Linked DNA regions of Homo sapiens: regions 1, 2, 3, 5 and 6 are each reported to be linked to region 4. Evidence: microRNA targets listed by miRTarBase, many of them from high-throughput screens and not tested one by one. Region 4 holds a microRNA gene; each other region holds the end of a gene's coding sequence. Distances are between the middles of the regions.

Region 1 (5,077 bases), not on the chromosome of region 4:
AAGAAAGAAAGAAAGAAAGAAAGAAAGAAAGAAAGAAAAGAAAGAAAGAAAAAGCCCTGGCGCGGTGGCTTACACCTATAATCCCAGCACTTTGGGAGGCCGAGGAGGGCACATCCCCTGAGGTCAGGAGTTCGAGACCAGCATGCTTAACATGGAGAAATCCCATCTCTACTAAAAATACAAAATTAGCTGGGCTTGGTGGCACATGCCTGTAATCCTAGTAATCCCTGTAATCCCTACTCAGGAAGCTGAGGCAGGAGAATTGCTTGAACTCGGCAGGTGGAGGTTGCAGTGAGCCGAGATTGTACCATTGCACTCTAGCCTGGGCAACAAGAGCAAAACTCTGTCTCAAGAAAAAAAAAAAGAAAAGAAATTTTTAAAATTAGCTGGTATGGTAAAGTGTGCCTATGGCCCTGATCAGCTTAGGAGGTTGAAGTGGGGGGATCATTGAGCTCAGCAGATCGAGGCTGCAGTGAGCTATGATCATGCCACTGCACTCCAGCCTGGGTGACAGAACTAGACCTTGTCTCTAAAATAAATAATAAAGGTAAAATTGTATATTCCTTCAGCTACACCCCCTTCTCTTAGCTTTATTCCTCCTTACTATTGCACTTACTTTTCACATTTGTCTGGCTCGCCCTCAAGAACAGTATGTTTCCTTCATTCCTATCCCCAGAGCCTAGAAGAGTACCTGGCACATACAAGGTGCTCAATAAATATTGGTTGATTGAATTAATGGCCAGACACTTCCTTCTCTTTCCTGGCTCAGCCCGGACCTCAGCCCTCTATTCCCATGAATCCACTTACGGGAGTGTCCACCTGTCTGGATGCACAATTCCTAAAAGCAGCCCACTGTGAACGGACAATTTACTCTCCCTTCGTTTCGTTGATACCAGAAATGAGGCTGCGAAGAACACTCTTCTTCATATTGTTGCCCACTGTATCTGTCAGGCTCAATTCCTCACAGTGGAACAACGGAGCCAAGACTTTTGTGTGCATTTGATCATTTTATTTTGAGACGAGGTCTCACTCTGTCGCCCAGGCTGGAGTGCAGTGGCATGATCTCGGCTCCCTGCAACCTCCACCTTCTGGGTTCAAGCGATTCTCCCACCTCAGCCTCCCAAGTATCTGGGATTACAGGCGTGCACCACCACACTCGGCTAATTTTTTTGTATTTTTAATAGAGATGGGGTTTTACCATGTTGGCTAGGCTAGCTCGAACTCCTGACCTCAGGTGATCTGCCCTCCTAGGCCTCCCAAAGTGCTGGGATCACAGGCGTGAGCCACCGTGCCGGCCGTGTGCATTTTAAATAATGATTACTAATAGGTATTTTTCCTCCTAAAGGTTGCAGTGATTTTTGGCTTCCCCTAATGACACACGAGAGTACCCCAGCCTCCTGCTCCCTCAAATTGGGTTTCCTCCACCTTTTAATATTTGCCAACCTGACAGGGGGAAACGGCATCCTGGGATAATTCACATTTCTCCAGTAGGAAGTGACGTACAGCGTCTTTTCAGGCATATTGCTTTTTGCTAAGGTTTTACGTCTTCTTGGAGACATTTACCGTGGACGCCAACTATAAGCCCTTTATCACCCGTCTACTGGGTCAAGCAGAGCTGAGACTGACTGGGGCACAGCATCTCTGAAATGCCATGAATACAGGATAGATTTAATTCTTCTCAACTTCTACTATTTTATCAGCCCTTTTTCCTCCCTCAAATGCAGACCAGGGGGGCATCTCCTTAAGTGTTAAACATTTCTGAGGAACCACCTACGTTCTTCTAGTGATAGTAAAAGGATACCTGATCTTATTTCCTTCATTGCAGACCTCATGAGTCAGAAACCTGAGGTTTTAAGAAAAAAATCTAGAAATCACACTTAAAAGCTGTGGAAGGTCTAGTGGTGACTATAATTTGGCCCATTTCACAAAACCCACCTACAAGTTCAGGCTGGGCACGGTGGCTCACATCTGTAATCCCACTACTTTGGGAGGCTGAGGTGGGAGGATTGCTTGAGCCCAGGAGTTTGAAACCAGCCTGGGCAACATAGGGAGACCCCGTCTCTACAGAAAAATTTCTTAAAAATTAGCTGGGCATGGTGGTGTGCTCCTGTAGTCCCAGCTACTCAGGAGGCTGAGGTGGGAGGATCACTTGAGCCCAGGAAGTCAAGGCTGCAGTGAGCCATGATTGCACCACTGCACTCCAGCCTGAGGTGACAGAGTGAGACCCTGTCTCAAAAACAAACAAAAAAACCCCTGCTGATCTGAGTGTCTGAGTGGACCACTCCACCCTCCACAGAAGCAGGATGTGCTCCCAACAGAAAGAAAGAATAAAGAGGAGAGGGAGAGAGGAGAGCAAGAGAGACGGCGTATCTGTAAGAAAAGTCAGTATATTTATGGTTTGCTTTATAAAAGTTACTATAATACAATGGTACATAGTATTGAATTCACAAAAATATGAACAAATATTTACATCAAGACACACAACGGAAACACTTCTCTTCAAAACAAGTTACATATGGATGATGGAGTCTACCCGCACAAACATCCCTAAAACTCATTGGTTCTCATCTTTGCAGGGGGAGGGAGAGAAAGCAAAAAATAGCAGAAACCCCCAACTCTTGAAAAGCAGAGATTTGTTCAATGAAAAATGAGGGAGTTGAAAGAAAAATGACTCGACACATATCTTGATTATTGCAAACCACTCTGGGGCTGGGGCTCCTGGGGAGAGGGAGGTCTAGTCCCCTTAGTGAAGGCCAGCCGAGGTTAACACTGGGCACGATGGCTGGGAGCAAGGTGAGGCCAGGGGGAGGGGTGAGGCAAGGGTCCCTTCCCTGGTCTTCTCGAACACCCCCACTTCTTTTATGGGAAGGGGACAGAATGGAGACAGCCCTTTGGAGGCTGTACATGTAACTTGAATCAGCCGTCTCTACAAGCTACGCATTTCCTCATGTGAAAAATAAATTATTTCCTCAGTTGCACAATTAGGCAGAAAACCGCAAACGGAAGAGAAGTTCGCCGCTGTGCCCAGGTACCCCATCTGTGTCTTGTTGCCACCAATTTCCTTGATCTTGAAACCGGCGGGCACAGTCTCAAATAGAGAGGGCCTGGGGGAAAGGAATAAAAAAAAAACAACAAAAAACACACAACAAAACCACCAACAACAAAAAAGAGAAAAATAACAATTCTTTGTACAGAATTTACATGATAACAAGCTTGACACAAGCTGAGATACCAGAGGCTCCGGCCGCCTGCGTCCGCAGGGTGGGAGCAGCTCCCTCATGGAGCGCGCTCATCTTGATGAGGACTCCGGGTCACAACAGTCACTTTCCAGAAATTATTTACACGCCTCCTCTGCTTTCTGGGGTACGGGGGGACTTGCTTTTGTCTTTTTTTTCCTTTTTTTTTGGAAGTACAAAGAAATGAGCAAAAAATGTCTTCCCGCATGTTTCTACAAGAAACAATGTTCCCAAGAGAAAGTCCTTTGCGGCAGCCTCTATATACAGAAGTTGGTTCTGAACTTCAAAAACCTTTTTCCCCTTCCTTTTGATTTTATACACGCACAAGAAAAAAAAAAGCCATGGGAATAAATTCTGAAGAGATGGGAAGGGGGTCAAAAGGGAAAAAAAAACCGTCAAGGCTTAGATTTGTGTTTTTAAATCTTTTCCAAGATTTTCCTTTCTCTGGGAGAAGTAATCTGCTCCCTCCGAAAATAAATATGCTCTGGCCTTCTTAGGTTGAGGGGCTGCCGGCAGGGGGATGTGGGGTGTGGGTTGGGGGTGAGTGGGTGAAGCTTATAAGCCAAAAAATGCCACACGCAGACGGTCTGACAACCCGTAATGGCGGGACTGGGGGACCCGCCTGCCCTTGGGAGCCCTGTCCCACCCAGGGCGAAGGCAAGGGCAGAAGAGAGTGGCTGCCCGCGTTCTCAGCGCCCCTCACCTGCACTGGGGCCTCCGAGAGGCTCCCGCGTTGCTGGCATCCGAATGAGAAAGTAAACATTGAACCCAAGGTTTAGGGGGTGCTGGGGTGTGAGGTGGCAGGGAAAGCCCAGAGCGGAGACCCCTGCCTGGGACAGCTTAGCTCCATCAGGGTCCACCGGGTCAGTGGTGCCCCAGGCCTCTGGGGAAGGAACAGGCTGCAGCTCGGGTGGGGAAAGGTGTGGGGTCTCCTCACTGTGCCCACGGGCAGTGAGGGGCGCTTTCAGGGCGTAGTGTTCTGAGGTCAAGGCCGTGGGGGCCTCCATCCTTCCCACAGCACCTGGCCCTGCGTCCAGGTCCGGGTGGCTTCCAGGACACGGGCCACGCACAGCCACACTGAGGCCTCTGCAGACCCCCGCGGGGCCCCTCTCTGATTCCACCTTCACATTTCAACGGTTAAATGTCTTTTCTCACAACGAGGAAAAAAATAGAGAAGACAAAACAACGTAGCAGCATTCACAGGAAGAGGCCGAGGGTGATGGTGGGAGAGAGAAGAGACAGAGAAGAGAGAGAGGGGAGGAGAGACGGAGAGAGAGAAGCTGATGCTGGAGTTAAACAGAAATCCTGAAAGGGGCGTTTGTTAAAATGAGAGAGACGTGGGCTGAACGACAGAGAAGCCCTTTCCCGCGGAGGGGCCGGAGCCAGGGGCTCCAGGGGGTAGTGTGGGGCGCCAGGCCCTGAATGGCCGCTGGGTAGAGGACAGCACCTGAAATGGGGGCGGGCGCGGGGGGCCGGGCCCCGGGGCCAGGGGCTCCACGCTCGGGAGTCCCAGGGCTACGGCTGACATCCTTTGAGTCTGGTGCCGGGGCCTAGTTGAGGGTCCCCCGGCAGTTCTCGGAGCCACAGAGGCAGGGGATCTTGACGTCCTCGATGGGGAACTTATAGTCATAGGTAATCTCCTCATTGACGTTAATGTGCTGCTTCGAGTAGATGACTATCTTCTTCTGTGACTCCACCGTGATCACCTTGGCATAGCAGTTGGGCTGCAGGCAAGGTGGGGGGGAGAATGAGCCCCTGGTCCCCCAGGGTCCCCCACCACTGCAGACCCCCCAAACCCAACCAGGCCTGTGCTTAAGGCCTGACATGCCACGTGACCCCCA
Region 2 (5,089 bases), not on the chromosome of region 4:
GAGTGATAATCTAGATATGGTACAGTTGACATCAGGTATATGGCGGCAGCCAGAAATTCAACTTTGTCCATCAGCTCTCTGCACAACAGGAAAGATGGTGACCTTCCAGGCTTATCTGAGGTCCAAGAGTAACATCACAAACACAGTAACTACACCCAGCCAAAGAAAAGCATACCTGAATCCAAGAGAGTATTTACACTGGCTTCAGGGATGAGGAAATAAAGGAGTAAGTGATTAGGATCATTGTTTTCCTTTCTCTTTGGTACAAAATAAATGAGCTTCCTTTCTTTCATTAAAAATAAATGTTTAGGCCGGGCGCGGTGGCTCACGCCTGTAATCCCAGCACTTTGGGAAGCCGAGGCGGACGGATCACGAGGTCAGGAGATCGAGACCATCCTGGCTAACACGGTGAAACCCTGACTCTACTAAAAATACAAAAAATTAGCCGGGCGTGGTGGCGGGCGCCTGTAGTCCCAGCTAGTCGGGGGGCTGAGGCAGGAGAATGGCGTGAACCCGGGAGGCGGAGGTTGCAATGAGCCGAAATCGCGCCACTGCCCTCCAGCCTGGGCGACAGAGCGAGACTCCGTCTCAAAAAAAATAAAAAATAAGAAATAAATAAATGTGTATAATTAACGAATACTTAATTTAGCTGAAGTATGCAGGTGGGCTAGGGAGAACTGAAATAGAAAACATAAGAATGATTAAAGTTAACCAACAGAAGACACTGGAAGGTCGGTCTATATCAGAATGTTTTCGGAAAAAAAAAAAAAAAAAAAAAAAAAAAACACCTCCTGGAAGGCAGAAAATATATTTTTTTGTTTTGTTTTTTTTGTTTGTTTGAGACGGAGTCTCGCTCTGTCGCCCAGGCTGGTGTGCAGTGGCGCAGTCTCAGCTCACTGCAAGCTCCGCCCACGGGTTCACGCCATTCTCCTGCCTCAGCCTCCTGAGTAGCTGGGACTACAGGCGCCCACCACCATGCCCAGCTACTTTTTTGTAATTTTAGTAGAGACAGGGTTTCACCATGTTGGTCAGGCTGGTCTCAAACTCCTGACCTCATGATCCACCCGCCTCGGCCTCCCAAAGTGCTGGGGATTACAGGCATGAGCCACCGCGCCCGGCCAGAAAAAGTGTTTGTAGCACTATTTGCTTGTGCAATTAGTATGTGTTTGAAGATGACAACCAAACCTCCGGGGAGAAGATGCTGACCTCATCTGGCCAGTACTTTCAGCCACTATTATCTCCAGGGACCACTGGAATGTTTGTGAACCACTTAAATTACAAGAGTAAAGCCAAAAGTCCACAAAAAGCCCACATCCTGATATACATTGCTTACTGTCATCTTCCCCCAAAAGAGATAAGTGATTGATGCTGCTGGTAGGTAATGAAATAGACTGCTTTTGTCTCAGTGGAGATTACTTCTTGAAGGAACGGGATAAAATCATGCTTTCTGCTTAAGCCAAAACACAAAAACAGGATGAAAAATTTTCCTCAATCCTGTAAAGCAAAAATAAAATTCTAAGCGCCCCCACAACCATCTGAATGGACCCTTCCTCTAGGCCAAGGGCATTCCAGAGTTCATCTGAAAAACCAGTTTCAGGCCATCATGGGGAAGGGAGAGCCAGACATGCCTCATTATACTTCTCCTCCCTTTTGAAATTACTGATAGAACACACTCTTAATAAGAAGCATTTACAGTCTATTTTCTCTGAAGCCTGCTACCTGAAGGCTTCATCTGCATGATAAAACCTTGGTCTCCAACAAACCTTGTATCAACCTAGACGTTCCTTTCTATTTATAGTAACTCTTTCAACCAATTGCCAATCAGAAAATCTTTAAATCTGCCTAAGGCTTGGAAGCTTTCCCCACACCTGCTTCCAGTTGTCCCACCTTTCTGGACTGAACCATGTATACATCTTACATGTATTGTCTGATGTCTCATGTCTCCCTAAAATGTATAAAAACAAGCTGCACACCGACCACTGTATGCACTTGTTCTCAGGATCTCCTAAGGGCTGTGTCACAAGCCACTCATCACTCATATTTGGCTTAGAATAAATCTCTTCAAATATTTTACAGAGTTTGACTCTTTGCATCGACAGTCCTGAACTCTGCTTTTGTAGTGTGAGGACCCACATGTTAAATAGGATACTTCTTGATCTTCAATATGCTTAGAGAACAGAAATCTAAACCAACAAATAGCAAAGGCCACAGCACAAAATTTATTGAGATTATTTACTAAATAACTGATATACATCCAACATCACTGAATGGAAATAATTTAAAAATAAGCAAGGCTTAAATTGGGGTCTTTCAAAAAACTCAAAACATTCTTGGTGACTGTATCTTTAACAAATGGAATGACAAAACTAGTTAAGTCATATTATCTCAATCAACTCCAAAACTCAATGTTGCCAACATGTTTTTCTACTTAAAAGCAAACAAAAAGCAAAGCCTCATAATTTAGTAATTACCATGTTTCTTGGTTTCTGTTCTCAAATGCCACAGAAAGATACCTGATGAAAGGAAGCAAAGCACCTAGTCTCATCAGTCTTCTTCAAAACTTTAAGGTTGCTTTCACAATCTCACTATAAATATTTAGATTCCTATCTGACAGATTTCTTCACTTATGTGAGTAGGAATGCTCTCGAAACCTTAGTCTTTACTCTTGCTTCATACTAGAGCTGTTTGATTAAACCACCTCTGTATTTGCTGGCCTGCAACACTAGATAAGAACTCATTCCTATCTCTTCCAAGAAACCAAGATAATCTCAATATGAATTTTAGTGGCCAATATGTTATAGTACTTAGCAATACTTTGTTTTCTAATGGCAAGTATGTTGAAAAATTTATCATTAAGTGAATTTCATAACACATAGAAATAAATGATTCTATTAAAATATAAAAACATCCATTAACTTGTCCTATTTCCAGTGACTTTAAATATCAAATCTATTATACAAAGACAAAATTATTTGCCCTATTTGACCCTGTGTACCAAATGATGTAAGTGCTGAAAATAAGAAACATTTTAAGATTTTAAATCTCATATTAAGAACCTCGGATACCACTTAGCATTGTGACAGAAGAAAAAAAAGTAAGGCGAAAACAAATTCCTCAGAGATTTTTAAAGGAAGAATTGGTGTAAAAGAATATTCCTTTGGACTCTATAGCCTTTTAAAAATCATTTATCTTTCGGTGCTTCAACATGATGCCAAACAAAAATCTACTGAATAAAAATAGCAAGGAAGGGAATCAAACATTTATAAGATATATTTATTATTTTTCTGACCAAAGTGCAATGATTTTTAAATCTTTTTAAACAAATAACTATGAAAAAAGTATTCAAGAAAATAAAATACAAATGGGAAATTTAACTAGATTGCTTCTTCTAATTAATCCTAAGCTTTTATTAAGTCTAGAAAACAAACAAAAAAAAACCTTTGAAGTGTTACTAAAATGCTAACTGAGAATCATTTTAGCATAAATCTAGCCACATGCATTTCAAGGTTCCACTGCTACGAATTTTGTTAAGATCAGCTGAATCATGAATAACACTATATAATAGAGTATAAGGAACACAAGCATTAGATGTGATCCTTGCCCCATACCCTTAGATTATGTCAGACTAAAGCTGACAATTCTGCCAGGCTCTGAACCCCTAGTGCCCCCAACCCAAATCTTGGAAGCAAAGAATATGCCCTGTCATACAACTTTGTACAAGTTGTAGTAAAACAAAGCTTAAGTTTTCTCATCTTTCTACAGCAAATGGTCAGTTATTTAATAAACACTAAAATGCTCCTAAGAATCCATTTTGAGTTTGTTTACCAAACACATTGTGCAAGAACTGACTACACAAAAAGTTCCTTTGAAATTTGGTCCACAAATTCACTTAAGGTTGGAAATTTAAAACTTGCAAGAAAAAGAGGAAGCGGGTATCCCTAAATCCTAAAATGTTGTGATTACTAGAGGGATATATACGCGTACTAAAAAGTTTTGCTCACAGAAGGCACAAACTATAAAAGGGATATTCTTTTTGAATTTTAAAAAAAATAGCTGATACCCTTCGTTTGGTGAGCACCATAACTAAGGTGAAGTTAAACCTGAATTCACTGTCTACTCCTGTGACCAAAAAAAAGAACATAAAAAAATTTACTTTGTTTTACCATGTACTTTCCAGCCACTAATTGAGATGTAGTTATGAAAGATTAGAATTGCCTTAAAAAGGGGTCATGATAGCAGCTATCAAAGCAATATTCAAGCATGATTTCAAGGATGCCTTCAGGTTTAGAATTAGCCTTCCTTGTCAAAAATCTGCACAACTTCATCAAAAACCTGTAAAGGAAAAAGATGATAATAATTTTAAAAGCAGGTACTGTTAAAATACCATACAGCTAAGTTCTTATTAAAAATAATCAAATTTGGCGGGGCGCGGTGGCTCACATCTGTAATCCCAGCACTTTGGGAGGTCGAGGCGGGCAGATCACTTGAGTTCAGGAGTTCAAGACCAGCCTGGCCAACATGGCAAAACCCCGTCTCTACTAAAAATACAAAAATCAGCCAGGCGTGGTGGCGGGCACCTGTAATCCCAGCTACCCAGGAGGCTGAGGCAGGAGAATTACTTGAACCCAGGAGACGGAGGTTGCAGTGAGCTGAGATCACACCATTGCACTCCAGCCTGGGCAACAGAGTGAGACACTGTCTCAAAAAATATATATAAATAAAATAATATAAAAAATAAAGACTCCATCTCCAAACAGGGTCACACACAAAAAAATCAAATTTACATTAATTTTCAAAATGAATCATTTTTTTGAATCACATACTTAGTTTCATCTATTTTACTTTAGACAGTAATATTATATAAATAATACATATAAAATTATGACTATATTACATTCGATTAGTGCTTTTAGGACAAAATATTCTTGAGAGGCTACCAATAATTTGATAAAATATAAACTGTAAATAAAATGTAAAATAAAATATAAAATATAACTGAAGTGGCTTATCTTCTTAGTTCTGATTCTAAAACACAGTTTTCTCATGTATTACCTCACCTCTATACAAAGTGTCAATGGATTAAAAAAAG
Region 3 (5,089 bases), not on the chromosome of region 4:
ACTTCCTGACCACACAGTCTCCTTCCGTGAGGTCTTTGGCAGTTCCCACAATAATAGAGGAGCTGGAAGATGAAGAGGAGAGAGACCAAAGGCAGATGATAAAGGAAGCTTTTGCTGGGGATGATGTCATCAGAGATTTCTTGAAAGAGAAGAGGGAAGCTGTGGAGGCGAGTAAGCCAAAGGACGTGGACCTGACACTACCTGGCTGGGGCGAGTGGGGTGGTGTGGGCCTAAAGCCCAGTGCCAAGAAAAGACGCCAGTTTCTCATTAAAGCCCCTGAGGGTCCTCCAAGAAAAGATAAGAATTTGCCAAATGTGATTATCAGTGAGAAGCGCAACATCCACGCAGCAGCTCATCAGGTACAAGTGCTTCCATATCCATTTACCCACCATCGGCAATTTGAAAGGACCATCCAGACCCCTATAGGATCCACATGGAACACCCAGAGGGCTTTCCAAAAGCTGACTACTCCCAAGGTCGTCACCAAGCCAGGCCATATCATTAAGCCCATAAAAGCAGAGGATGTGGGCTACCAGTCTTCCTCAAGGTCAGACCTGCCTGTCATACAGAGGAATCCAAAACGAATCACCACACGTCACAATAAAGAAGAAAAACTGTAGGTTGTGTAGCTGGAGAAGTGACAGTCAGGGGCCCTGATTCCACTTCCTTTGGTCCAGTTTTACTCTGCTACAGGGTGGATTCCAAAACTGGCTCAGCACATTGCATGTAGTTGAGCCACATTTTTTAAAAAAAGAAAATGGATGACCATTAATTGACTAGCATTTTAGAATTGATCAGACATTAGAACACAGAAAAATTCTAGTACATTTAAATTCTAAACAATACAGTGGATGACCCTTTTGAATATACCTAATGATTTCCTTAAAAAAGAAATTTTAAACAGACTTGTTTAATCGTGTTCTCAAAGCATACAGTCAAGAGGTGGGACTGACTGATGCTTTATAGGTGTGTGTAGGGTGGTAGAGGCCAAGGTGCTGCCAGCAATCCTTTCCATACTAGGTACTGGTGAAAATTGTTTTTGTTTATGCTGTCAGCACATTTGTGTGGGTCTCTCATTGTCCCTTAACAGTGCCGCATCTCAGCCTGGAAGTCAGCTTTAAGTCATTCAAGAGAACCTCAGGCTGTTTTTCTGACAGTGATGATATGATATACAGATACATCCACAGGGTATCTATTACCAGCATAATGCATTGTAAGATGGCAAGGTGGCATTTTGAAAGAGCGCTGGGCAAGCAGTTAGCACATCTGGGCCTACCTTCAGCTTCTTCATTTACAAACTTCTGACCTTTTGACACTAAAGCTGCTCCTTTATCTTTCTGAGTCTCAGATTCTTCATCTGTAATCTGGAGTTGTTAATTCCAGTCCTTACTACCTTTTAGAGTTGGAATGAGATGGAAAGTAGATGAAACTACTTTGAAAATTACGACAGTTAAGGGCTGGGTGCGGTGTCTCACACCTGTAATCCCAGCACTTTGGGAGGCCGAGATGGGTGGATCATGAGGTCAGCAGTTGAGACCAGCCTGAACAACATGGTGAAACCCTGTCTGTACTAAAAATACAAAAAAATTAGCTGGGCCTGGTGGCAGGCACCTGTAATCCCAGCTACTTGGGAGACTGAGGCAGGAGAATTGCTTGAAACTGGAAGGCAGAGGTTGCAGTGAGCCAAGATTGTGCCACTGCACTCTAGCCTGGGCAATAAGCAAAACTCCATCTCAAAAAAGAAAAAAAGGAAAAAGAAAATTATGAGAGTTACTTAAAGGTAACATCACATACTAAATGTCTTCTATAATCCTATATTTATTAATGCATTACAACTCTGTAGATTGTTAGTTACTAGGCCAGTAGCTAGGAATTGGTATAAATTTAATGCACCTTCTATCCTGAATAACTAGCATGGAAAAGTGAATATATGTGTGAGCAGATATGGCTATAAAGACCTATAGCTTTTGCACTTTATGCATATATAATCAATCCTTTCTAGTTCAGTGAATTGACCCCATCCACAGGCTGATTCATCTTTGTGTTAAGGGGCAAATGAAACGGTATATTATTTCTTTGCAGTCTCCTCTCAGTCATTCATCAATGTGGCCAGCTTATCTACTCCCAATTATGTTGTTGATACATCTCCAAGCCATCTGTCATCAGATCAAAAAGCAGCAAACAGAGGGTCAGTCACAGGATGTTCTGACACACCATTGTAACTTTTTGTTAGAGATGATCCCATTTAGAAAAAGACTGGTAGAAATTGGAGTGAAAGGAACCCTACAGATTAGCCCAGTTCTCTCTTATTTTCAGCTTTACAGACAAGAACAATTTAAATCTAAAGAATTTAGTAGATTCCTTCAGTGTCACAAAGCTGTTTCATGAAAGAATCAAGATTATAACCTGGATATTCTGACTCCTGGCCCAGTGCTTTTTCTTACTTTGTAGCTACACTTTGAAGTAAGATTCAAACTGTTATCCACTCAATTGCCTTATTCCTGAGGATGTAGTGAAGGAAGAAAAAGTTTTCTGGAATTCCGTAAATTATATTTTAAGCTTATTTCTTCAAAATTATTTTCATATATCACAGATATATCATTGGAAGATATAATTTGCATATATGTTCATTATCAGTGTTCCTAATTTGGTATTACATGTATTCTATTTTTTTCTGAATGATAGCATGAAAAGTGTCAAAGTGGTTTGTCCGCTAGCGTCTGTCTGCAGAACTTTCAGGATGACTATTAATTCCTCTCAGATGTCATTTTTGAGTGGTCCAAGCCTGCTGTTTTGAACCCACAGCAGTGGAGATTTGTATTCTTATTTACAGTTGTGTACTATAAAGTGTGTGTTACATAGGTTTTGTGTAATAATTATTTGTAAATATTATTTAGATTTGTATTTAGACATGATTTATATCTAATATAGATACAAAGTCTGTGTCTAAATATTATTTAAAGAAGTGATTTTTCATTCTCTTGGATTCTTTCCAGTGTGGTGCCTTTTATATGCCTCACATAGTCTCCTTGTTCTCCTACTAATATTCCCAAGCTCCATATGCCAATTAAAGAAGAAACAAAAATAAAAGTTTGTCTTGCTTGTGAAACATTAAGAAGAGGCTGTCAGGTTTAATAAACTTTTTAATGAATATTTCAGACATAACAAAAAACTGCAGAGCTTCGTACACTTGATTTAAATAATTCTTGAGGGATTTTATAAGGTCATCTTATAGACAAAATTAAGAGACACCAGTGTGGTTATCAATGCTTTCAGAATACTTGTGTTTATGTAAATATACCCCAGAGTCCAAAACTCTGATATATTCATATATATTCACAATGAGAGGATGTCTGTGCCAAATCTGTCAATCAGTACAATAGAAAAGTTAATTATATAACTACAACACGAAACACAAATTTTTAGAAGCAAATTATGTCCTGTAATTTACCCCCCTCCCCGCTGCTCCTCTGCTAACTCATTTTCCTCTTTTCCCACTCTAAATGTAAGGCAACCCTTGGCTTTGGAGAAGCATCTGTTCCAATATTCTGGTGCTATGTGCTCAGTTGTACTATATGCAAATGTTACTAGACACAGAGGAGGTCAAAGTGTTGATACACTTATTGCTACCATTTACAGAATGATCAATTTGATAGCTATCATACATGGCTAGCAAGACACTGATTTTTCTAATAAAAAAATTTTTAATGCATACAGGTCTGGTGAACAGTTTCAATTTAACGGATGAGGCCAAGGCTAAAGCCAGAGTAAAGTAATCAGAGCCATGCCTCAGGAACACGATTTAGCTAATAGTGTGTGTAAAATGGGTAAGGTCTAGAATTAGGGACTAAAATCAGCTGAAAGTGTTGCAGATATGTATACTTATCACAGTGAATACTTCCAGTTTACAGCAAAGAATTCAAAATTGTTGAGTAAAGCTTGGTGACTATTACCTAAAATAGACTAGACTTTAGCCAAGCATCTTTTATCATGGGAACAAACCCGATAACCTGACATGCTTTTTTTTTTTTTTTTTTTTTTTGAGACAGGGTCTTTCTTACTCTGTCACTCAAGGTGGAGTGCAGTGATGTGATCACGGATTATGGCTCACTGTAGCCTCAACCTCCCAGGCTGAAACTAAAGTGATCCTCCCGCCTCAGCCTCCTGAAGAGCTGGGACCAGAGGTGCACACCAACACACCAGCTAATTCTTTTTTTTTTTTTTTTTTTTCTGAGGGGTGGATAGAGATGGGTGTTTCCCTATGTTGCCCAGGCTGGTCTCAAACTCCTGGGCTCAAGCGATCCTCCTGCCTCAGCCTCTCAAAGTGTTGGGATTACAGGCATGCGCCACCACACCTGGCGTGTTCATTTACCATCCTTAAACATTCTTTTTTTTCTTTTTTTTTTTTTTTTTTGCCCTTAATTGACTTGATCTTTGGATGTTTGAGGTTATTAGGGATCATGTTTCATTTCCCTTGCTTTCAAATACAGTTCAGAATAAGGATTACATGAAGTCACTAGCAGTTTTACTATGTCTGAACTAGTCCTGAAAGTAAATAAACATGCACATCCGGAGCACTAAAAGAGTTGCAGAATTAATGATACTCCAATCTCTCAGGCCATGTGTCAGTTGGAAACTAACACAATGGTGAGAACATTTTAAATATTTACAGCCTCATGATGTGAACAAACAGCATTCTCCCTAAAAGAGTAGACTGTAACTCTACACCAAGTTGAAAGAACAGTCTGTCAAACATCAGGAAATAGTCACAAAAAACTGGATGTACCTCAGGTGACTCCTAAGACTTGCATTCTCCACATTTAATGAAAATTATATGAAATGTAAATAGTAAACAGACCTTAGAAATAATCTGACCCACCTTACCTCATCTTTGTTTTCTCAGTTTAACAGTGTATCGGTGAGACATTTTACTTTTATTATAAAGCAGATATTTCAGGCAGAATTCTACCACCCTGAAATGTAACCACCCTCTCCTTCCTAAGCCCAGACATACTCCTTAGTATTTAAATAAACATCTGTTAAGCTCCAGGCCATGTTCAACGTTGGAATTGTTATGATCAATTTTAAA
Region 4 (5,089 bases):
GTTGAACCCGGGAGGTGGAGGCTGCAGTGAGCCAAGATCCTGCCACTGCACTCCAGCCTGGGCAATGAAGCAAGACTTTGTCTCAAAAAAAAAAAAAAAAAAAGTAAAAAGGAAATGTGTCTGCATTCTTTGATGTTTTCTGGCTAAAAACTATTTTTTAAAAAAAGCAATTAGAAACCTACAATTACCTTGTTTCTTAAGATTTTTAGTTAATATGGCTTGTGTTGAAACATACTCAACTGAAATAAAATGGGGAAAAAACACCTCTGAAGAGTAGCGTATTTGTTTGGTACTTTGAAAAAAGCCAAAACGCTAGAAACGGGTTTTTCATCTATTCTAATCTCCACTTGGAAAATACTACCTATACACAGACATAATGAAGATTTTTTTCTTTTTCTTTCTTTTCTAAATAGTGATAGGGTTTCACCGTTTCCCAGTCTAGTCTCAAATTTGTAGGCTCAAGAGATCCTCCCTCCGTAGCCTCTCAAAGTATTGGGAATACAGGCCTGAGCCACTGCGCCCAGCCCACAGTCAAGATTTAGTCAGCAGTAATAAATACCTACGCAGGGAGAGGATGTGTGCTTGTCATCTGCCTTCTGGAAAATTAAATACAGGCACAAAGGATTCTTCAGCTACATGTCTGATCCTGCCCTCCACAATACCCGTCTACAGGGATGTTTACAGGGATGTGTTAATCCCCACGTAATGGGGATTGCCTATTGAAATAACCTCCCAGTAAGGATTTTTTTGGGCAAAATATTCTCGTTTGGCAATTTCGACTTACTGATTCTTTTGCAAAGTCAACTTGTTTCTGGGCAAACTTTAAAAATAAACTCCTAAGGTAGCATTTAGCTAGCAGCTAGCACATCCTAAATCGTGTCTAGATTTAACTTACACAATATGTGCTTTGCTTTTTTCCTAATTTGCAACAGAAAATAGTAATCAGCTGGTAGTTTCAGAAATCACCCTTTTGCTGAGTCTTAAATTTTTTTTTATTCCAGGGAAACGTGAAGATTGTGGGGCGCTATTTTTTTTTTTAAAGCAAACCACACAGCATATCTGGCCACCTAAAACACAAAGTGTTTGAAACTAACCGTAAGATTTCCTTTCTGCTCGCCCAACCTGTCACTGGAAACGCAGTATTCATTTGTAACCAGCTTTGGAGCAGGGCTTTTAAAAATAACGTTTTCTTGCTAAAGTCCCCAAAAATCTCTTGATTCTTGGTGGCAATGTCCAGTTGAGTCTTTGCACACACTGTATTTTTGCCAACTGGGTCGCAACTTTGCGAGAACTCCGGGGGACCTCGTAGGAAGCCAGGTTGGCAGTTATTTTTTTCTCCACTTGCCACTAGGTTGCACTAGATTTAGGATGCTGGGGAATATGCGCCATTTAATTTTTAAAAATAAAGTAGGACCATCACGTGACGAGACCCGAGAGAGGAAAAAAAAAAAGCCGAAGGGACAGGGTTTTTCATTGAAATCCCGTTCAAATCGCCTTCCCTCCAAAGCCTGAAAGAGCTGAATTCTATTAAATCCTGGTTGGCAGGTTTTTTCCTCGGGTCCACGTCACGAGCTCATTCTCCGCTTCAAGGTTCCTTTCGACTCCACAACGTGAAGCCAGGGGGAAGGCCTCCTTAAACTGGGGGTTTTCGCCAAAAAAGCCAGGGTCACCCCCCGGGAAAGTCCCTATTTAGGGGTTTATCGGGAGGGGACTGAGCCTGACGAGGCTGCAGGGCCGCGAGGCCCCGCCCCCCCCGGGGTTCCCAGCATGCCCCGCGCGGACAGGACGCGGCGGCGGAGGCGGGGCGAGGAAGGGGCGGGGCGAAGAGGAGAGAAGGGCGTCGGTTTTGCGACAGGGGCGGTGCGGTGCGGAAGCGGAAGTGAAGGGTGCGCTTGGCGGCGGCGGCGGGAGCTGCGGAGTCGGGAATCAAAACAAAGGGCCTGGGGGGGGCGGGGGGAAGGCGGCGGGGCCGGAATGTGAGCGGAGGTGGAGCCGGCGGCAGAGGTGAGTTTGCAGACAGTCCTGCGACCAGACCCCGGCAGGCTCTGCTCCGAGGCCAGCGGGGCGGGACGGAGGACAGTGTCCCCTCTTTCCCCGCCTATTGCTGGTGGGATGGTGGTGGAGAGGGGAGGTTAGCTAACTGGGACGCGCCAGTTGGGCCCCCCACGAAAGAGTTGGCTTGTCTCCCTTTCGGGTCCATTCACTACTGTCACTGTTGGCGCCGCTGTTCCCCTTCGAGGGCATTTGGCTCCCCGCCCGCCCCTGTCTGACCCCTGGTGGGGCCCTCCAGGAGTGAAGTGCACAGCTGGAAGGTTAAGAGAGAAGGAAAGGGGCGGGTGTTTTTGCAACACACTCCCCCCTCCCCGGCCGTTTTGCATTCTCCTCGGCCTTTTAGCAACACATAGGGTGTAGTCTCAGGGTTGACAATGTCTAGGGCTTCAGCCACTCTCACTAGTAGTTGTAACGCGACCTCGTGATACACCTTTTAGAGTTTCTCAAGCACCTTTCCGGTATTACCAAGAGCTGTCCAATTGCATTTGTGTCTTTTGGACTTCTCTGAGCGGTAAATATTCTTCTCTTTTGCATATCGGTGTATTGAAACCTAAACTGTTTTCCTATTTATTAAGCTTTATTCGTTCAACAGTTATTTATTAAAATATGCCAGGCATTGTACTAAGGACAGGAGTTGGAATAGTGGATAAGAAAACATAGTCTCTGCTGTCATGGAGTTTATAGCCTAATGGGGGAGAAAGATAATAAAATAAGCTAAAAAGGCCGTTTTGGACAGAAGAGCTATGGGGGAGAAAACGGTAATGGGATGGGGTGGTGTGGGGTCAAAGACTAGATTGGGTGCTAAGGAAACAACATTTGCTAAATGTTCCCCGTGGATTACCTCATGTAATCCAAACAACGGCCTTGTAAGGTGGTTTCTATTATTATCACACCCATTTTAGAGATGGGATCTGAGGTTCAGAGAGGTTGTGAGTTGTCCAAAGCTGCACCGCAGTCAAATTGGAGACCAAAATGCAGACAGTCGACAGAGCCTATGCTCTCCTCATTGAATTGGTCAAAAGACTTGAAGAGAGTGACAGAAAGGAGACTGTCGCTCAAGTCAAACAGAACCTGCTTTTGGCTACCTAAGTTGCTTCGTGGATGGTATTTGGGAAGTTTTCAGGGTGCAGGCACCTGAAAGTTTTTACTTTTAATCGCTTGTATTGAGCAGTATTGAAGGCACCTTGATGTAGTGGAAAGGGGTGAACAAGCCTAATCTTGTGTCAGGCTCGCTACAAAACTTCATTAAGTTTCTTTTTCTCTCTCTGCAAAAATGTAGCTAATTTCTCCCCTGTCTATTTCACAGGATTATTGCAAAAATTATATAAGAGGATCCCACCGTCTGGGTTTTTTTCATCATTATATTCCTTGTGCCAAGCACAGGCCTGCTGCATAGTAGATACTAAGTAAATATTTGCTGAATGAAGACATAAGTAATGTTAAGTGAAAATACTTTATAAACTAGATTATACTGTGAATGTTAGCTCACTTTCAGGATTTGGCTTTGAAGAAGTTTGAGAGAATGTTTAAGTTATGAACACTGTGAATATCACAGATTCTTACGATTTTGAGAGGAGTTTTTTGGGGGACATAAAACCTGTATCTAATAGGAAAGACAAGAATCGTAATTTACTATCAGTGGTAGCAGTTAAATCCATCTCCAAATTAACCACTCCCAATAGTGTGTAGTAGGTAATGTTTACTTTGTATTTACAGAGTAGGGAGCATTTTGGTTGGCACAAGAGATACAGTGGTGAAAATAGACAGTGGGGTTCATTTATCTAATTTTTTTTTTCTCTGTAATGCAGTGGCGGGGAGAAATTAGCCACATTTTGCATAGGAGGAAACAGAAACTTGAAAACAAAAATTTTTTTAGAGATGGAATCTCACTCTGTTGCCCACGCTGAAGGGCCAGTGGCACAATATAGTTCACTGTAGCCTCAAATTCTTGGGCTCAAGAGATCCTCCTACCTCAGTCTCTCTAGTAGCTGGGACTAGGCGCATGCTGCCACACTATGCTAATTTTTTGAACTTTATTTTATTTTAGAGCTGTGATCTTGCTATATTGCCCAGGCTGACAAAAGAGCCACGTAGTAAATATAGGCTTTGTGGGCCATACAGTCTCTTTGCAGAGACTCTCTTTGCAACTCTGCAATTGGAATGCAAAAGCAGTCATAGGCAGTATTTAAGTGAATGAGTGTGTCTGTGTCCCAATTAAACTTTATTTATGGACACTGACATTTTAATTTCATGTAATTTTGTTTGTTGGTTTTTGAGACAGGGTCTCACTCCGTCGCCCAGGCTGCAGTGCAGTGGTGCAATCACAGCTCACTGCAGCCTTGACTACGCAGTCTTAGGTGATTCTTCCACCATAGCCTCCTGAGTAGATGGGGCTACAGGCATGCACCACCACGCTCAGCTAATTTTTTGTAGCCATGGGGTTTTGCCATGTTGCCCAGGCTGGTTGGGAACTCCTGGGCTCAAGCAATCCACCCACCTTGGCCTCCCAAAGTGCTGGGATTGCAGGCCTGAGCCACGGTGCCTCGCTTGCATTTATTGTTAAGACCTGTAAGAGTGTTGTTGCTCTGGCGTAGATATAACACATCTGCGACTTGAGATTTTTCTATCAGTTAGATTTTTGGTGGTATATCAGATTGCACTTTCATCATTAGTAAACTAAGAAATTGGTTCAATTTGTTCTGTAGCAAATCAAATTCAAAGTCCACAGAGGCCACTTAGTTTGGACTTTTCATGCTCAGATCAAGAAACCAGTGCAAGAAGTTGCTCTTAAGTCAATTTTAAAATCTTACATATAGTTGTCAATGAGGATGTGGTGGTGGCTCTTTTACTCAGATTAGATGCTCTCTTCTGTTAACTTTTGACTTTCCTGAGCAGCATCTTTAGGGAGAGAGAGCCGAAAAGAATTCAGAAAAACTGTAGAAAAAATTGATTCCAGCCAAGTGAGGAGGTGAAGTCTCACTCTGGAATATGCAAGTTTCCAAGATATGGCTACCTCTCTCAAACATGGTTACATGTG
Region 5 (5,000 bases), not on the chromosome of region 4:
GAACACTTTGGGAGGCAGATCACCTGAGGTTGGGAGTTGGAGACCAGCCTGAACAACATGGAGAAACCCTGTCTCTATTAAAAATACAAAATTAGCTGGGCATGGTGGTGCATGCCTGTAATCCCAGCTACTCGGGAGGCTGAGGCAGGAGAATCGCTTGAACCTGGGAGGCAGAGGTTGCGGTGAGTGGAGATCGCACCGTTGCACTCCAGCCTGTGCAACATGAGCGAAACTCCAGCTAAAAAAATAAATATATAAATAAATACATAAATAAATAAAACAAAATAAAATCTTTGGAGCAGTAGCTAGGCAAAGGGGCACTCAGGAGGCTCACACCAGAAGATCACTACTTGAGCCCAGGAGTCTGAGGCTATAGTGTACCACTATGGTCATACCTGTGTAAACAGGCACTGCACTCCAACCTGGGCAAGATAATTTGTGTTATCTGTGAGACCTTGTCTCTTTTTTTTTTTTTTTTTGAGGTGGAGTCTCACTTTCGTCCAGCCTGGAGTGTAGTGGCACAATCTCAGCTCACTGTAACCTCTGCCTCCTGGGTTCAAGCAATTCTCATGCCTCAGCTTCCCAAGTAGCTGAGACTACAGGCCCCCGCCACAACATTCCGCTAATTTTTGTATTTTTAGTAGAGATGGGGTTTCACCATGTTCACTAGGCTAATCTGGAACTCCTGACCTCAAGTGATCCCTGCCCTCGGCCTCCAAAGTACTGGGATTACAGGTGTAAGCCACCACACCTGGCCTCTTTTTGTTTGTTTCTTTTTGAGACAGGGTCTCGCTATGTTGCCCAGGCTGATCTTGAACCCTTGGGCTCAAGTGATCCTCACACCTCAGCCTCCCAAGTAGCTGGGTTTACAGGCATGTACCATTGCACCCAACTGAAACCCTTTCTCTTAAAAAAACAAAATTGTTGGAGCAGATATGCATGTGGGTTGACTTGGTGAGCATCAGGCAGGGCTTCTTCCTTTGGTGGGCCCCAAAGGCATAGGCGGTCAGGACACCTTTGACCCAGAAGATCATCCCTGTGGGTCTGTGACAGCAAATCCTACAAGAGCAAGGAGCCCCATGAAGCCACCCAGAACAGGACTGTCAGGACCACCAGAAAGAGAGATGCCTATTTCAGGTGAGTGATCTGCCAACCCAGCCCTTCTGTTTTTCAGTCTCGTTCTTCTATACCCCAGACAGGAACCTCCATGAGCCTGGATAAATAACACCCTTTTCAGGGATGGACATACCACCTCTTTCACTGATGGACCCATAAGAAGCCCTTCTCCTGTTCAGGCTTTTTCTATCCTATGGCCTCACTCCTCTTGCAGAATTAAGAGTGTGTGGCCGGGCGCAGTGGCTCACGCCTGTAATCCCAACACTTTGGGAGGCCGAGGTGGGTGGATCACCTGAGGTCAGGAATTCAAGACCAGCCTGGCCAACATGGTGAAACCCCATCTCTATTAAAAATACAAAAAAAAAAAAAAATAGCTGGGCCCGGTGGTGGGCACCTATAATCCCACCTACTTGGGAGGCTGAGGCAGGAGAATCCCTTGAACCCCGGAGGCGGAGGTTGCCATGACCTGAGATCACGCTACTGTACTCCAGCCTGGGCAACAAGACCAAAAATCTCTCAAAAAAAAAAAAAAAAGTGCTACAAATTTCACATGATTCAACATTGTCTTGTGTTTTATTCCTAAAACCCTTCCCCCATCTCTAAATCTAGTGTAATCTACATCCTAAAGACTGGGCCGTTCTCAGCTTTGGCAGTAGGACTTTATATCTTTGCATAAGTGACATTATGCCCACCATCTCCACCCAACTCCTTTATTATTTATATTTTCTTGCAGAGATGGGGTCTCACCATATTGCCCAGGCTAGTCTCAAACTCCTGGCAGTCCCACCACTTTGGCTTCCCAAAGTGCGGACGTTATAGGTGTGAGCCACCATGCCCAGCACTCTTTTTTATTAGAATTTTTGCACAGTACCTGGCCACAGGTAATTTCTCGTGCTTAGGTGCATCTTGATCCTCACAGTACCCTGGGATCCTTATTTTCCTCCTAAGCAGGATTGGCAGTGGGGGGCACTTTGCCATCCCCTCGAGAAGTGACTCTTACAGAACGGCTCCTCCTGGATGGCCCACCACCTCATTCACCAGAGACTCCTCAATTTCCCCCCACAACTGGAGCTGTACTGTACACTGTTAAGAGAAACCAGGTTGGGCCTGAGGTTCGCTCCTGCCCCAAGGCATCCCCCAGACTTCAGAAAGAGAGGGAGGGCCAAAAGGCAGTGAGTGAGTCAGAGGCTTTGATGCTGGTCTGGGATGCATCAGAAACTGAGAAATTGCCTGGTACCGTGGAACCCCCTGCTTCCTTCCTGAGTCCTGTTTCCTCAAAGACCAGAGATGCAGGGAGAAGACATGTGTCCGGGAAACCAGACACTCAAGAGAGATGGCTGCCCTCAAGCAGAGCTAGGGTGAAGACAAGAGACAGGACGTGCCCTGTCCATGAATCTCCATCAGGAATTGACACCTCAGAGACTTCTCCCAAAGCCCCTAGAGGGGGTTTGGCTAAAGACAGTGGAACACAGGGCAAGGGTCCAGAGGGGGAACAGCAGCCAAAGGCCACAGAAGCTACGGTGTGTGCCAATAACAGCAAGGTCAGCTCCACTGGGGAAAAGGTTGTCCTGTGGACAAGGTAGGTAAGGGTGGATGATGTGTGTTTGGAAAAGAGCATAGACCACATCCATGTGGCTCCCTAGGGTTAATCATGATACCTGGGTTACAGGGAAGCTGACCGTGTGATCCTCACCATGTGCCAGGAGCAAGGGGCACAGCCACAGACCTTCAGCATCATCTCCCAGCAGCTGGGAAATAAGACCCCTGCTGAGGTAGGTGCGGGTTGGGGTGAAGACCTGGCAAAAAGAGGTCAAGGTGGCCAACTAAGAGACAGAAAGGCCAAAGAAGGAGTTTTCATATCCAAGATAAGTGGTTTTTGTAAAGGTTTGATCTAAGGAAAGGCTTGACTCATCAGGGTGGTAGTGGTTCTAGGAGAAGAGAAAGGACACTGCATTTTTAGGTGGAAGCCCGTTTCCATTCTAGCTTTTTTTTTTTTTTTGAGCCAGAGTCTTGCTCTGTCGCCCAGGCTGGAGTGCAGTGGCATGATCGTGGCTCACTGCAACCTCCACGTCCCAGGTTCAAGCAATTCTCCTGCCTCAGCCTCTCGAGTGGCTGGGATTACAGGTGCCCACCACCCAGCCAATTTTTCTATTTTTAGTAGAGATAGGGCTTCACCATGTTGGCCAGGCTGGTCTCGAACTCCTGACCTCAAGTGATCTACCTGCCTCGGCCTCCCAAAGTGCTGGGATTACAGGTGTGAGCCACTGTGCCCGGCCATTCTAGTTTTGTTTTTAGGAGTCGTGTGACTTTGGGCAAAACATTTAGCCTCTTGAGTTTCCTTATCTATAGTGACATAGCTCTCTCAACCTTGCTGTGTGGAATAAACAAAAGATTTTGCAAATCAATATATAGTGCTTCATAAATGTTAACATGTTACTAAGGATCAGTGAATACAGCCCTCCTCCTTTCTTAGGTTTCCCACCATTTTCGAGAACTCATGCAGCTCTTCCACACTGCCTGTGAAGCCAGCTCTGAGGATGAGGATGATGCAACCAGTACCAGCAATGCAGACCAGCTGTCTGACCATGGGGACCTTCTGTCTGAAGAGGAGCTGGATGAATGAGACTCTGGGAATCATCTACACAGGACCAAACCCAACAGGCGCCCTGGCACCGGGGAGGCGGGTAGTTGTACTCTGCTTGTACAGTCCTTGAGCCCAGTTTACAGATCTGGAGAGCAGGAGGCCAGGACAAGGACAAAGGCTGGAGGATGGAGTAGGACCCAGGGGCTCTGCCATCCTAGGCATCATTCAAGGTCTTTTATGAAGACTTTACAGATGTCCTCTGTAAGTAGCATCGAGAGTGGAGTTCAGCTCCTTTCTCTACTTTTTTTTGGTCTGATGGCACATATTTATTGTTCTGTGGTCTAATCACAGTGTTTCTAAATGTAAAAAGTGCATATGTTGGTGTAGCTAGTCCCGCGACATTGAGCTCCTCTGCATGAAGACACTGGGCTCCTGCATCCAGCTGTTTTTATTGCAAACTAGCTCCTTTCTCCCACACTGGGAACTTTAGTCCACGAGGCTGTCACCACCCTGGTAGCACTGGGCCAGGCTTTGTAGCTCCTGCAGCAGCTCTGCTACGTCATCGTGCTCCACTCCAGCATCCATGAAGCTGGCCCAGCGCCGCAAGTCGAGTTTGGTGAGGTCTCTGGCCAAGGCTTCCAGGGTCTGGTGCAGGGACGAAGAGGAACACAGTGCCCCAAACACTGGGATGCTCTCCACTGCTGTGGAGGGAGAGGAAACAGAGACCTGTAGATGGATGATTATTCTGCCCTGGGACTCTGCCAAACTGATAAGGAAGTCCAACCTTAGTAGACTTGATTGTAAACTCAACAAATTTGGTGTATTGTCCCCTTAGTACACCAGTACTCCAGAGGAAGAATGCTTTTCTTGGGAGCCATAGGGTGAATAAAGGAATGTTTAACTGTGGACTTTTTCAGCACTTTTAATCCAGGAATGGAGATAGTAAAAACTCTCCCATACTTGAAATCTCAGTTTTCTTCACCTCCTACATACCTGCTCCCTTGGGGGAACCATCCAGAACCATACCCGGTGGACTGCAGCTTGAGAAGAGGTGGGGGTAAGGAGGAGCCACCCTGCAGGGAGTCAGCAGCAGATGGGAAGAACTGTGGGGGCAGAGAACAGCCATTAAGTGCGTAAGAAGTCAAGGGAGGGTTGCGGTTGGCAAGAAGGGCAGGAGCAACCGTTACACTGACCTCATGACTCCAGGCTGCTGCTGTTGTAAATACTGAGCCAAGATTTCTTCCCCAGTGGTACATGCATGAAGGGCAGAGGGTGGAGGTGTCCCTGGGGTGAGCTGGCT
Region 6 (5,082 bases), 43 Mb from region 4:
ATCCACTTCACAGATGAGGAAATTGAGGCATGGCAATGTGCAATAACTTACTTGGGTGCTAGAGGGAATTCAGACCTCCTTCTGAGTCCTACACATCATTCTTTCTTTTCATGCCATTTAAATGTTCTGAGATAAAAATGGATATGACTTTGTGGGGTGTGAGGTCAACCCTGACTTGTCTTACTCCCTTGTTTCCCAGACTTTTATCGGACGTTTTCGCCGCATCATGGACTCCTCACAGAATGCTTACAACGAAGACACTTCAGCCCTGGTAGCCAGGCTAGACGAGATGGAGAGGGGCTTATTTCAAACAGGGCAGAAAGGACTGAATGACTTTCAGTGTTGGGAGAAGGGGCAGGCTTCTCAGATCACAGCTTCCAACCTCGTTCAGAATTACAAGAAGAGAAAATTCACTGATATGGAAGACTGAAAGCCGGAAGAACACAGAATGGCTCCTCACAGACGTATCCCTCCGTGTGTCCTTGATAGGAGCTGGTTGACCTTGTACAGAACCAGAATCCTGTCCCATTTCATGGCTTATTTCCTGTGGCCATAGAGAATTATAGGGAACTGGACATGCTGGAGGATGTGGGTGTCCCTGGCTCTGTGAGTCTTCCAGGACCGTCCCACCCTGCTGACCCACAGCCCAGGCCCTTTAACCCAAGAACCCATGGCCAAGGAGAAATCAAAGTCCTTCCTAAATAAGAATCACTGCCATATAATATATCACAGTAGAGTTGCAACTGAGATTCCTTGTGTCTGGGAGTTTGGACAGCTTCAGATGTACAGTTTCACTAGCCACAAAGCACAGGTACAAACTGGGTCATCGCCTGTTCACAAAATGCTCTCTTGATCTTATTTGCCTCATCTTCCTCATGGTTGTACAGAGGATAGCACCCCACCATGCCAGCCTGACTTGGAGATATCTCCTGCTGCCTGCCTGCAGGGAGTTACCCCAGTTTCCAAAAACAGTCGCCCAGATAAAGGAGGAAAAGGGAAAGGCAGACGAATGGCATGGCTTTTACTAAAGAAAAGATGTTGGCCTCATACTCTATACTCAGGGCTTAATGAACTGGAATCTGCATAACTCAGCAGTCAACCCAGAAGGGAAATGGTTAAACTGAGCTTGTTATTGCCTCGGAGAGCCTAAGAGCACCCGCACACTTAATTCTACTCCCTGTCTAGAAAAGCTGTCAGGGAGTCGTTTGGAATTGCAATGTAGTTATTAAGGGCTGTTAACCAGCCTGCATTACATCTGGAAGTCAGGACTTGGGTGCTGACTATGAAGGGCCCTGTTTTCAAAATCTAACATTGCAAGTGTAAATGGGCAAGAAGCCTCCGTTGTGCTTTTTTTTTCCTCTTCAGTAACTTTTGCAACATTATTGCATAGAAGATCCCTGACCATTTACTAGGAACCTGGTTAAGCAAGCACTAATCTCTTTTCCTGGAGATCAAGGATGCAACCTCAGGTTGAGAAAGAAACAGGGTTCCCTGGGCCCATTAGACTGTTTGCAGGGCATCACTGCTTCCCCCTGACACCTCACAACTAGCAAAAATTGTCTTTGTCTTTGGAAATTATAGAGGGATTTGGGTATCCAGATTGTGCAGATGCAAACTTAGGCTGTCTTGATGCAAACTTAGAACCACAGAAATGCTTTTAAAATGCCTGTTTTAAGATGGAATTGTTGTTTTTATAATTTGATTTTAGTGCTAAATAAATGATTGGCTTTGTACATGAATATGTTCTGTACAAGTGCTCTTTCACTAGTACTACAGATAATCAAAGCTATCAGAATTGTGTCTTTGATCATATTTGACGGTAATACACAAATCCATGTTTTAGCAGCTGCTCTTTTGCTTGTGTGGTACACATAAATAGGAGGTACATTCTCTGTAGGAGGGTGCTGTGTCCTAGGAAGATGAGATTTCCATTACTACCGCAGCATTTATATATAGCCAGGGCCCGAGAAACCATTCATAGAGCGAGAAAAGCATATTATTTAACTTTTGGCATCATTCTTTTCACACATAGCTTTATATTTAAAGTCAACTCTAAGTCTGCTGCCATTTTTTCCTACTTCCTAAAAAAAAGAAATTCCTCAGGGGCCATGTGTCAGGAATATGTAGGTATTCATGTCCAAAACTTAGCCCCTATTTTACATTTTGAACAGATTATATTACATGTAGCTTTTGAACTCATTTTCAATTACAGATCTGCCTTCAAGCCTGTCGGACTTCCCCTCTCCCCAGCAGCCCTCCAGTTAGTCGTTTAGATTTTGATTTGGTCCCTTCAAGAGGTTAATTTTTCAAAAAACACAACAAATGGGCTCAAATACCAAATTGCTATCAAACTCCAGGGAGTAAAGCTGTGCCCTTTCCCCTGAAGCACTCTGTTCCCACATGACTGTGGCCTTACAGACAGAAGACCTCAGTATATATAGGTTTTTCCCAGGGACAGTGTGGGCTGCCAGGAGCAGTGGGGCAAGGCTCTGTCACTGTTGATTCCTCCTGCTGTTCGTGACCTCTGGATTTGGGTGGCTCTGGGCTGTCCATGCCTCTCCATCTCCACGCAGATGGCTCCCAAATTCCTATCTCCAGCTCAGATCGCTCCCTCCAACTCCAGACTTGTATCCAATCCCCTGCTTGATGTTTCTACGTCTCCACGGCCTGCTCCTCCTCTGATGTTTCCCATCTCCATTTTTTACAACTCCATCCTTCCCTATTGCTTAGAACAAAAACGCTATGTCCCCCCCTGACCTTCCTCCTCTCACGCTCCATATCTTTTGGGTCTGCCGTCAAATCATTTGCAGCATCCGGCCACCTCCCCATCACCTGTGGTGCTGTCACTCGGGCCAGGCCCCTACCGTTTCTTTCCTGGAGTTTTGGGATCACCCCCTAACTGCCTCCCTGCATTCACCCTCCACTCCATCTTCAGACTCTTCTCACCATAGCAGCCAGAGTGCTCTTGTTAAGAAGTATATCCAATCTTGTCGATTCTCTGCTCAAGACCCTCCCATCTCAGAGAAAAAGGATAGTCAGTTATCCCAGCACACTTTGTTAAAAACTAATCTTTGGGCCCGGTGCGGTGGCTCATGCCTGTAATCCCAGCACTTCGGGAGGTCGAGGCAGGTGGATAACTTGAGGTCAGAAGTTTGAGACCAGAAGGGCCAACAGTGAAACCTGTCTCTACTGGAAATACAAAAATTAACCAGGCATGATGGTGGGCGCCTGTAATCCCAGCTACTCGGGAGGCTGAGGCAGGAAATCACTTGAACCCAGGGGACAGAGGTTGCAGTGAGCTGAGATCACACCTCTGCACTCCAGCCTTGGTGACAGAGCAAGACTCTGTCTCAAAAAAAAAAAAAAAAAGTCATCTTTACCCTGCTAATCTGATGTTGAATTTCTTTATTGCTTGCATGGCAGAAATAATTTGTTTCTTATTTTAAATAAAAAGTCCACCTTCTCCCTAAGAATTCTGAGCATCTTACAGAGCTTCTCACTAACCTCTCAGCACCTCTGAACCCGAGGTTTCTGGAATACTGTGCCTGAACTAGTGAAACCGGCATGCAGAAGCACTGAGTGACTCAAGTTCAAACAGCAGTCAGTTCCACTCTGTGTCTGTCTGTTCTGTCCCCCTCCCATCCTTCAAGAAACCCCAAGAGAGCTTTTTTTTTTTTTTTTTGAGATGGAGTCGCTCTGTGGCCCAGGCTGGAGTGCAGTGGCGCGATCTCGGCTCACTGCAAGCTCCGCCTCACAGGTTCACGCCATTCTCCTGCCTCAGCCTCCCGAGTAGCTGGGACTACAGGCGCCCGCCACCCCACCCTGCTAATTTTTTGTATTTTTAGTGGAGACGGGGTTTCACCGTGTTAGCCAGGATGGTCCCGATCTCCTGACCTCGTGATCCACCCGCCTCGGCCTCCCAAAGTGCTGGGATTACAGGCGTGAGCCACCGCGCCCGGCCCCAAGAGAGCTTTTGTTCTTTATGCTCGAAACAATTGTGTCTACGTGAAAATGTAATATTTTAAACTGAGCTTGGCAAAAGAAAATAACTGCAGAGGCCATATATATATTTCTCAAACAGATATTTTTGTGTTCAGGAGAAAAATCTATAAAATGTAAGGTAGATGCTTAACTGTAAGAATTTTTTTTTTTTTTTTTTTTTTTTTTTTTTTTTTGAGACAGAGCTTGCTCTGTCACCAAGGCTGGAGTGCAGGGGCGCGATCCCAGCTCACTGCAACTTCTGCCTCCGGGTTCAAGCAGTTCTCCTGCTTCAGCCTCCTGAGTAGCTGGGATTACAGGTGTGTGCCACCACGTCCAGCTAATTTTTGTATTTTTAATAGAGACAAGGTTTCACCATGTTAGCCAGGATGGTCTCGATCTCCTGACCTCGTAATCCACCCGCCTCGGCCTCCCAAAGTGCTGGGATTACAGGCATGAGCCACCACACCAGGCCAACTGTAAGAACTAGTCTAAGAAATATAATTTAAACATTCCTTATCTAGTGAAGGCAGATTTTTAGGTCATTTTATTTTATTTTTGAGACAAGGTCTCACTTTGCCACCCAAGCTGGAGTGCAGTGGCCCAATCACAGCTCACTGCAGCCTTGACCTCCCAGGCTTAAACAATCCTCCCACCTCAGCCCCCCAAGTAACTGGGATTACAGGCATGTGCCACCATGCCTGGCTAATTTTTGTATTTTTTGTAGAGACGAGGTCTCAGTATGTAGTCCAGTCTGGTCTCAAACTCCTGAGCTCAATCAGTCCACCTGCCTTGTCGTCCCAGAGTGCTCGGATTACAGGCATGAGCCACTGTGCCTGGCCGATAAATTTTTAATATTGAGTACACATAGAAACAGTTGTTTGAAAGATAATTAAGTAAATGTTCTAAACCTAAGGAAAGGTATCTGAAAGCTGGAATTCTGTTGCTAAATCTGTGTGTGTGTGTGTGTGTGTGTGTGTGTGTGTGTGTGTGTGTGTGTTTTGCTAACTCTTGATATTATCCTTTTGAATGAGGAGGAGAAAATTTCTCATCCTTAATAGTAACAAATAAAATGTACAGTGAATCAAGGACAAGTCTGGAAAA

The links. Region 4 holds the annotated microRNA hsa-miR-484 (UCAGGCUCAGUCCCCUCCCGAU, at 1,700-1,721, opposite strand). A microRNA usually pairs through its seed, bases 2 to 8, with sites in the 3' UTR of a target mRNA and lowers its output. Matches are read on the target gene's strand: a 7mer-m8 pairs with bases 2 to 8, a 7mer-A1 pairs with bases 2 to 7 and ends in A, and an 8mer does both.
Region 1: miRTarBase lists SETD1B as a target of hsa-miR-484. The part of its 3' UTR that is shown has no 7-base or 8-base seed match.
Region 2: the mRNA of CMPK1 is a reported target of hsa-miR-484. Seed matches in the 3' UTR shown: 7mer-m8 at 3,645-3,651.
Region 3: miRTarBase lists UTP14C as a target of hsa-miR-484. Seed matches in the 3' UTR shown: 7mer-A1 at 1,539-1,545.
Region 5: the mRNA of MSTO1 is a reported target of hsa-miR-484. The part of its 3' UTR that is shown has no 7-base or 8-base seed match.
Region 6: the mRNA of GINS3 is a reported target of hsa-miR-484. Seed matches in the 3' UTR shown: 7mer-A1 at 909-915.

What each region holds. Positions count from the first base shown.
Region 1 is chr12:121,829,949-121,835,025 of GRCh38, reverse strand. SETD1B (SET domain containing 1B, histone lysine methyltransferase) reads right to left here. Exons shown (of 17, transcript NM_001353345.2): 17 at 2,370-4,960. The coding sequence ends at 4,787. Among named protein-coding and RNA genes, the nearest start is that of TIALD, 24 kb to the left of the region's middle.
Region 2 is chr1:47,375,947-47,381,035 of GRCh38, reverse strand. It overlaps CMPK1 (cytidine/uridine monophosphate kinase 1), which reads right to left. Exons shown (of 6, transcript NM_016308.3): 6 at 2,197-4,332. The coding sequence ends at 4,291. LINC01389 (long intergenic non-protein coding RNA 1389) reads left to right here. Exons shown (of 5, transcript NR_126355.1): 5 at 1-240. Among named protein-coding and RNA genes, the nearest start is that of FOXE3, 38 kb to the left of the region's middle.
Region 3 is chr13:52,030,486-52,035,574 of GRCh38, forward strand. It overlaps UTP14C (UTP14C small subunit processome component), which reads left to right. Exons shown (of 2, transcript NM_021645.6): 2 at 1-3,115. The coding sequence ends at 620. It overlaps ALG11 (ALG11 alpha-1,2-mannosyltransferase), which reads left to right. Exons shown (of 4, transcript NM_001004127.3): 4 at 1-3,115. NEK5 (NIMA related kinase 5) reads right to left here. Exons shown (of 24, transcript NM_001365552.1): 24 at 3,126-5,089. Among named protein-coding and RNA genes, the nearest start is that of UTP14C, 8.3 kb to the left of the region's middle.
Region 4 is chr16:15,639,933-15,645,021 of GRCh38, reverse strand. MIR484 (microRNA 484) reads right to left here and starts at 1,728; the gene lies at 1,650-1,728. MARF1 (meiosis regulator and mRNA stability factor 1) reads left to right here and starts at 1,868. Exons shown (of 27, transcript NM_014647.4): 1 at 1,868-2,004. It also overlaps a transcript of NDE1 not described here.
Region 5 is chr1:155,613,460-155,618,459 of GRCh38, reverse strand. MSTO1 (misato mitochondrial distribution and morphology regulator 1) reads right to left here. Exons shown (of 14, transcript NM_018116.4): 12 at 4,894-4,998; 13 at 4,694-4,803; 14 at 3,509-4,401. The coding sequence ends at 4,187. It also overlaps the pseudogene LOC100419798. Among named protein-coding and RNA genes, the nearest start is that of MSTO1, 5.7 kb to the right of the region's middle.
Region 6 is chr16:58,404,300-58,409,381 of GRCh38, forward strand. GINS3 (GINS complex subunit 3) reads left to right here. Exons shown (of 3, transcript NM_022770.4): 3 at 200-1,848. The coding sequence ends at 430. Among named protein-coding and RNA genes, the nearest start is that of GINS3, 14 kb to the left of the region's middle.